Homo sapiens: one gene and its partner. Changing the gene in region 2 together with the main gene of any one other region gives a genetic interaction. Each region holds a gene or a part of one and is shown on either strand. Other genes may lie near its edges. The genes, in order: MRPS21 and GATB.

Region 1 (3,822 bases), on a different chromosome or scaffold from region 2:
GAGATCAAATCTGTATTCACTTTTGCACCTAACAAAATACTTGGCAAAGAACAACTAGGAAATGTATGCCAAAAATGAGTCCTCTAGATGACTAATAAATGTCCATAGCACAAGGGATTAAGTGACCTTACAATATATACAGTTATTGGGGATATAGCTCAGAAAGCCTCAATAGTATTACCTTTACTACGATGGCATATTAGAGTTTAGATAGCATTTTTATATCCATCATCCTAACTACACTCCTATGAAATTGTTTAGGCAAATAATGTCCTCTTTTTATAGATGAGGAAACTGAAGTTCAGAGAGGCTGACCCGCCCAAGATCACAAAATGGAACTATAAACAGAATTCAGGTCTTTAGTAAAGTGCTCTACAACAGTATTCTGCTTCTCAAACAAAAACCACCCATTTCAGAAGACAAACTGTTGCAGTATCCATGGGTAAAAGAGGGAGTGAAGAGCTGGGCTAGACTCTTCAATCAGAGTAAAGAGGAAATGGAAGCCGATAAGGGACACTTGGATAAAAGAATGATCTAAACATGTAAACATTTATTTCTGCTGAGACTTTGTGTTTAATACTGTCTAATGAAGGTTGCTTTTTGGACTAGAAAGTAGTATATTGGAGAAAATATAGAAAAAAGCCCCTGAAAGAAAAAGATTGGATATATAATGTAAAAAGTACAAGGAGACTGGATTTGAGAGAATATAAAAACGACAGAGACCCTGAGTAAATATGACCTAGGAAGACGAACCTATTGGAATGACAAAGACAGTTTAAAAGTAGGATGAAACAACACTGCAAGAGGAGGAAGGGGTTGAGTATGACTCAAGGAACCCTACTGGAGTTCCAAAAGGCTTCTAAAACAAAGGTGATCATCTTACCAAGGAAATGCCTGTACTGTCAGGCAAAAGGGCAAGACAAGGAAAAAGAATAACAAAAGAACATAAGAATGGTGAAGGGAAAAGAAAGAATATAATGATGGGGGTTGGTAAATGGCATTCCCTGGATGTACTACTTACTTCCAAAACACAGACCAAATAAATTCCAAGATGCCAGGTGAGGATTCCCTCCCTTACCCGACACGTTCTAGTCATACTAAAAAAGGCACAGATTATCTTCAAATGCCCCAGAGTCCCTATAGTAGAGGTATCTACTCAACTTTACCTCTAACAGAAAAGGATGCAAGAAAAGCTTTGTAAAACACAAGAATAGAGGGGGTGTTACTAATGATGCTTCCTTCTGCTTCCAAAAGTAGTTCAAGGACTAGTACATCAAGAGCTTTAGAGTAAACAGATCAGCCTGGAGTTCGGGCGCCTGGCAACCTAATACTGAAGGAGAAACCAGCTGCCAGTTTTAGTGAAATTCAAATGATTATGTAAAAGGAGCCAAGCTGCCTGGAGCGGGGGGAGGTGCGGGTGGCAGACTCACATGTCAGTGTAGCCAGTCTACGTCAGGACAGACGTGTATGCAGAAGGACTCAATGGACCCAGAAGGTAGCCCACTAGGAGTAAAAGGAGTCAACAGGGCATGCTTCCAGTGTACTCACCTTTCTTTGCTTGGGGGCCAGCCAATCATGCAGGGCTTCCTAGCAACCCCCACTCTCCACCTTCTCATCCCGGGGCACCAATGAGGGCCCCCAGTTATATAACAGGCATTTTGTGGTGGCCTCACTGGACAGACACGTAGGCTATTTCCTTTGTAAGACTCTCTCTGTACTCCAAACATGGTAAAGCTTTAATCACCTCCCTCTAGACTCATTTGCTCTCCTACCTATTGTTGTAATTAGACCACAGAACAAGCAAATTATTTTTAAACTACCAGCTATGAGAAAGCTGAAAGAGATCAGGAGAGGCCTGGAGTGTGAGAAAGATATACAGAAAAAGTGGCTAGAGAGAGGACATTTGGGAAAAGCAGAGAAAAAGAAGAAACAGAAAAGTGCATCAGTCAGAAAATGTGTTTAACAGGCAGCAGGAAAACAGAAGATTGGATCACTCCAAAATCAGTCTGCTCACGTATGCAAGCTTGAAAGTCCTTACCTAGAAAATTATTCTAAGAGGCCGGGCACGGTGGCTCACCCCTGTAATCCCAGCGCTTTGGGAGGCCGGGCGGGCCAATCATGAGGTCAGGAGTTTGAGACCAGCCTGGCCAACATCGTGAAACCCCGTCTCTACTACAAAAAATTAGCCGGACGTGGTGGCAGGTGCCTGTAATCCCAGCTACTCGGGAGGCTGAGGCAGGAGAATCACTTGAACCCGGGAGACAGAGGTTGCAGTGAGGCGAGACCACGCAGTCTGGGCAACAGAGAGAGACTCCGTATTAAAAAAAAAAGAAAGGAAAAAGAAAATTATTCTAAGACTGAAATATTTGTTCATTTCCCCCCTGCCCCGCGAAGCTATAATACAATTTATGGGACTCTGAGTCTATGGGACTTGAATTTCTTTTCCTTTTTTGAGACGAAGTCTCGCTCTCGTCCCCCAGGCTGGAGTGCAATGAATGGCGCGATCTCGGCTCACTGGAACCTCCGCCTCCTGGGTTCAAGCGATTCTCCTGCCTCAGCCTCCTGAGTAGCTGGGATTACAGGCACCTGCCACCATGTCCGGCTAATTTTTTTTCTTTTGAGACGAAGTCTCGCTCTCGTCCCCCAGGTTGGAGTGCAATGGCGCCATCTTGGCTCACTGCAAGCTCCGCCTCCCGGGTTCACGTCATTCTCCTGCCTCAGCCTCCCGAGTAGCTGGGACTATAGGCGCCCGCCACGGCGCCCAGCTAATTTTTTGTATTTTTAGTAGAGACGGGGTTTCACTGTGTTAGCCAGGATGGTCTCGATCTCCTGACCTCGTGATCCGCCCCCCTCAGCCTCCCAAAGTGCTGGGATTACAGGCATGAGCCACCGCGCCCGGCCAATTTTTGTATTTTTTTTAGTAGAGACAGGGTTTCATCATGTTGGCCAGGCTGGTCTTGAACTCCTGACCTCAGATGATCCACCCGCCTCGGCCTCCCAAAGTGCTGAGCTTACAGGGGTGAGCCACCGCGCCTGGCCAAATTTATTTTTCTAACCACTCCTCTTCTTTCTTAAAAAGAAAAGAATATAATTCTTTTCTTTTTAAGCAATGTAAATTGCTTTTTTCCAAATCCTACTCCTACTTTGGTGTTTTAATCCCTGAAGAAAAGGTAATACTGTGCTTCTTAACCAGGGTAATTAACAGAATGCCAAAGGATACAAGTTTCTGGACAAATTTGATGCATCTGCCTGGAGGCACCAATTTTAACTCGAAGGAGTGGGGGTGTTACCCATAAAACAGATGCAATGGCAACGAATACGAAGTTCACCTTACATTTTAATTTAGGGAAGCTTCAAAGAAATTCCATGTTTGCTTATAGTAGCAGAACCCCTATAGTTCATTCACTCTCCTCTGCTGTTAACGACACTTCAGTAAAAAAGTTTGACAAACATTAAATAAGTGACAAAAAAGATAAAGGAACATTTATGTTCATTAAGTAGACATTTAATGAGAGCTTTGGATGTGCCAGACACTTTGGTAAATCCAAGAGATACACAAATGAAAAAGCATAGGTTTCTGTCCTTAAGGAGGCTACAAGCCTTTTTTTTTTTGAGACAGGGTCTCACTTTGTCACCCAGGCTGGAGTGCAGTGGCGCGATCTCGGCTCACTGCAACCTCCAGCTCCCAGGTTCAAGCGATTCTCCTGCCTCAGCCTCCCGAATAGCTGGGATTACAGGTATGCACCATCATACCCGGCTAATTTTTATATTTTTAGTAGAGACGGGGTTTTACCATGTTGGCCAGGCTGGTCTTGAACTCCT
Region 2 (3,822 bases):
CAGTTTCTAGAGCAAGCCACGTTGTTTTTCTTCTGGTCTTTGTACATCCTATTCACTTTCTACTTGGCCAATTTCATCAATTCCTTATATCTGTGTTGAATACTCTTCCTATGTGCTCCTCAAGCACCTTGTATTTCCACGACTAACATGTTTATTAAAAGGTAGTGCAACTGCCTGCTTGCTTGTTCATGCTCCATGTGGGCAACACCCATATCTATCGTCTACCAAGTTCAAAACTGTGTCACTAGAGCTACACAAGGGCTAGCATAACGTGGGCATCCAATATATGCCAGCTGAGTGAATGAAGACACAACCGACAGAGAAGAAGAATGAAATGTCTACAGAAAGACTATACATTATAACAATTGTTTTAAGTGACAATCCTAATTTTTTACTAAATCAAGAGCCAATACCATGTTGAACCAAAGAAACACTCCAAATAACTACAGATGGAAAAAAAAAAGCTCATAAGCCTTCTTTTTCGCAATAAAAGTAATGATTTCTAATTCAGAAATAATTTTATCCATATACTAGTTTTTACTGGTTTTCATTATTTACTTAATTCTCTATACATCTCTGAGGTGATGAGATACCCAGGTTAGTTTTTGTTGGCAGATCACTTAACTGGTGAAATCAAGGTTAAGTGACCAATTGTTATGTGTAGCATTTACTTTTGCTCTCACTGGCAACGTAACTGTGCACAATAACTCAGGAGAGCCTTTGTAAAGATAAAAGCCACCAATCATTATGGGTATGCTAGCAGGTAAGATTTACCTTACCTATTATTAAGAGCTTTTTAATTAATTACCTGTTATTACTTGTTAATTATCTGTTAATTAATAAGAGCACTTACTACATGCAATTACTGTTTTAAGTGTTTTAAAGGTACTGATTCATTTAATTCTCACACAAATCCAATGAGTCAATTATCTCCATTTTATAAGAAACTGATGCAAAGAAGATTAAGTAATCTACATGAAAATTCTATTCATCTCACTAGAATTTTTATCTTTAGCATTGTCCTATGTCACTAAAAGTCTATTATAAACATTATCAGTGGCTTCATAATGTTGTACTGTACTGATGTATTATAATTTACTCAATGATTCCCCCATCACTGAGAAACTGTGGTTACTTCCAATTTTCTACCTTTAAAAATAGATCTGCTATAGACATCTCTGCATATAAGTCTTTGCCCACATGTTTATTTTCCAAGGACAGATTCCTAAAAGAATTACTACGTCAATAAACATGTTGGGCGAATAAAGTAGTCAAATTGCCATTTTGCCTAATTAGCTGTTTTTTCTTGCTTTTATGCCTACAAAGTTTCTCCCCAACCCAAGGACAAACAAATATTCTCCTAGATATTTCTGGATTTAATTTGACATTTAACTTATATTATATATATATGAACTTTGTTTTGATGTGTGAAATGAGCGATACTTTTTCTCCAAATAGCTAACCAATTCCAAAACCATCAGTTAAATAACTTATCCTTTTCCCACTGATTTTTGCTTCTTCTTACATATATTTTCCCTTGTTGGTTTATTCTTTCGTCAGGAGGCAGTGAAACTTTGGGGAGAAAAGATAACAGGCTTAACACTGTAACTGCTGAATTTAAGATGTTTATGAATCATTCAGATGGAAATATATAGTAGGACACAATAGATATAGGTTTCTTGCCTAAAAGAGAGAGGGGAGCTTTATTTGAGGGTAAAAAGATTACTCAGGGGAACACAGGTAACAGAAGAATTGAGAGCCAAAGAATAGGGCATGGGAAACCAACATTTCAGGGCTGAGTGGCAGAACACAGCCATGTGAGAAGGCACAATCAGCCAGGTAGAGGGCGGGGAAGAAGCAGGAGAGAAGGGAGCAATATAAGCCCTGCGCAGAAAGAGTTTCAAGTATCATCATGAATCACACTTACACTTTGGTTTACTTGACCAAAACAATAACATAATGTTCTACTAAAATCCTCGGAAGCACAAACATATTCTCAAATTATTGGTTTCTTATGAATGGAGTTATAAGCAGAGTCTGGCTATCAGAGCATGTTTATACATCTCCATAGGGCTTAGGGGAAGGACAACTGTCTAAAGGTTTTAGTGTATTTTAAATCTATTTAGAGGTAAATCAAAAGATTTTGAAATGTTTTGAATGGCAATGCTTAATTCTGGGAGTTTGGGTATAATGTTGCTCACGTACAAAATGAGGTCCCTTAAAGGCAGAAACATTTCTGAAGAAGAGGTAGATCTCCTCTGTCTACAGAATAACCCATCTAGGCTACTTAAACCATAAGCGTTGTAGGCTCTGAAGAGGAAAACAAATCCTAGCTCATACAAAACTGTATTTCCAGACTTTGTCTGCCATTTAATTAATGTAAGCCAAGCTCTCAACACTCAAATGTCCCAAACACCTTCACTGTGTTATTGATATGCTTATCAGTGAACAAGCACCTTCTTTTTTGGTGCATGACAAGTTTTACAAAGCAATTAAAATGTTGGCATTTTAATTATTTTGAATTTTTCTAATTTGGTCTAATTTTTGACCAAATTTAGGTACAGCTGGAGAGTCTATATACAGAAAACATGCTTATCTGCAAATGGACCTGTTTCTAAAGTGAACTGTAATAAGTATGGCCTGATAGCCATCACATTCACAGCTGGAAAAACCTAGGATGAACTCAGAGCTTATGCCTAATCTCTTGATAATTAACTACAACATGGGAAAAAAATGTTTTGAATCTGGAAGGGAAAATGTAGAGGTGTTATGACAACTTGCCTTCCATTTTACAATAAATATTATTGTATCTCTACTATATCTGAATCTCTGCCCAAAAAAGATGTCATATATTTATAACCAAAATATTCACTCTTCTCAAATAAACAAAAAATCTTTCCATAGATAGATCTCTAAGTCAGAGAGAGAGAAAGAGGGCACACCTCCACATCTATCTTCTCCCAGAGGGACCCAGCAGCAAATCAAAGGTGATCCTTGATATGGTCTGCAGGGAAGGGAGTCCTCCATGACAGAAAATGCGATAAGAGAAAAGTTCCAAGACAAAGATGCTGCCCCAATACAACCAAAGCTGAGTGAGGCAGGCATACTGGAGGCACTGCCCAGAATCTTCCACTTTGGTCAGTGACTGAGAAAAGTATACCTCTGCAAGCCTGCCAGTGCTCAGTTCAACCAGCTTCCAGATTTTTTTTTTTTTTTTTTTTTTTGAGATGGAGTCTCGCTCTGTCGCCCAGGCTGGAGTGCAGTGGCGCGATCTCAGCTCACTGCAAGCTCTGCCTCCCAGGTTCACGCCATTCTCCTGCCTCAGCCTCCCCAGTAACTGGGACTACAGGAGCCCACCACCATGCCCGGCTAATTTTTTGCAGTTTACTATTAGTAGAGATGGGGTTTCACCGTGTTAGCCAGGATGGTCTCGATCTCCTGACCTTGTGATTCGCCCACCTTGGCCTTCCAAAGTGCTGGGATTACAGGCGTGAGCCACCGCGCCCGGCCTCAACCAGCTTCCACTCTTATTTAAATGTTTGAGAGCATGGAATTTACCCATGACAATGTCTGCCTCTCCCCACCTTTGTCACCACCATGGATACACATTTCCTCCAAAGATGGCAGGAAACCCCAAACACAGTTGATATTATAGGTCCTGGACAGACCATATGCTATTTATTAGCTAAAACATTTACTTGTTCCCTTCATACTTTTCTTAAAAATTCAACCAATTATATAAAAATATATGCCAAAAGTCTTGCTGATGAGTATACTGGGCCCAGTCATTCCATAGGATCAAGTAAAAATGAGTGGTTAAGT

The links.
Region 1: changes in GATB (region 2) and MRPS21 together harm fitness less than expected from each alone (positive genetic interaction), as found in Homo sapiens cells (one large-scale study listed by BioGRID).

Annotation. Positions count from the first base shown.
Region 1 is NC_000001.11:150,300,133-150,303,954, reverse strand, and holds part of MRPS21 (small ribosomal subunit protein bS21m), read right to left. Parts: intron 1-3,822.
Region 2 is NC_000004.12:151,754,267-151,758,088, forward strand, and holds part of GATB (glutamyl-tRNA(Gln) amidotransferase subunit B, mitochondrial isoform 1 precursor), read right to left. Parts: intron 1-3,822. UniProt on the Homo sapiens protein: Allows the formation of correctly charged Gln-tRNA(Gln) through the transamidation of misacylated Glu-tRNA(Gln) in the mitochondria. The reaction takes place in the presence of glutamine and ATP through an activated gamma-phospho-Glu-tRNA(Gln).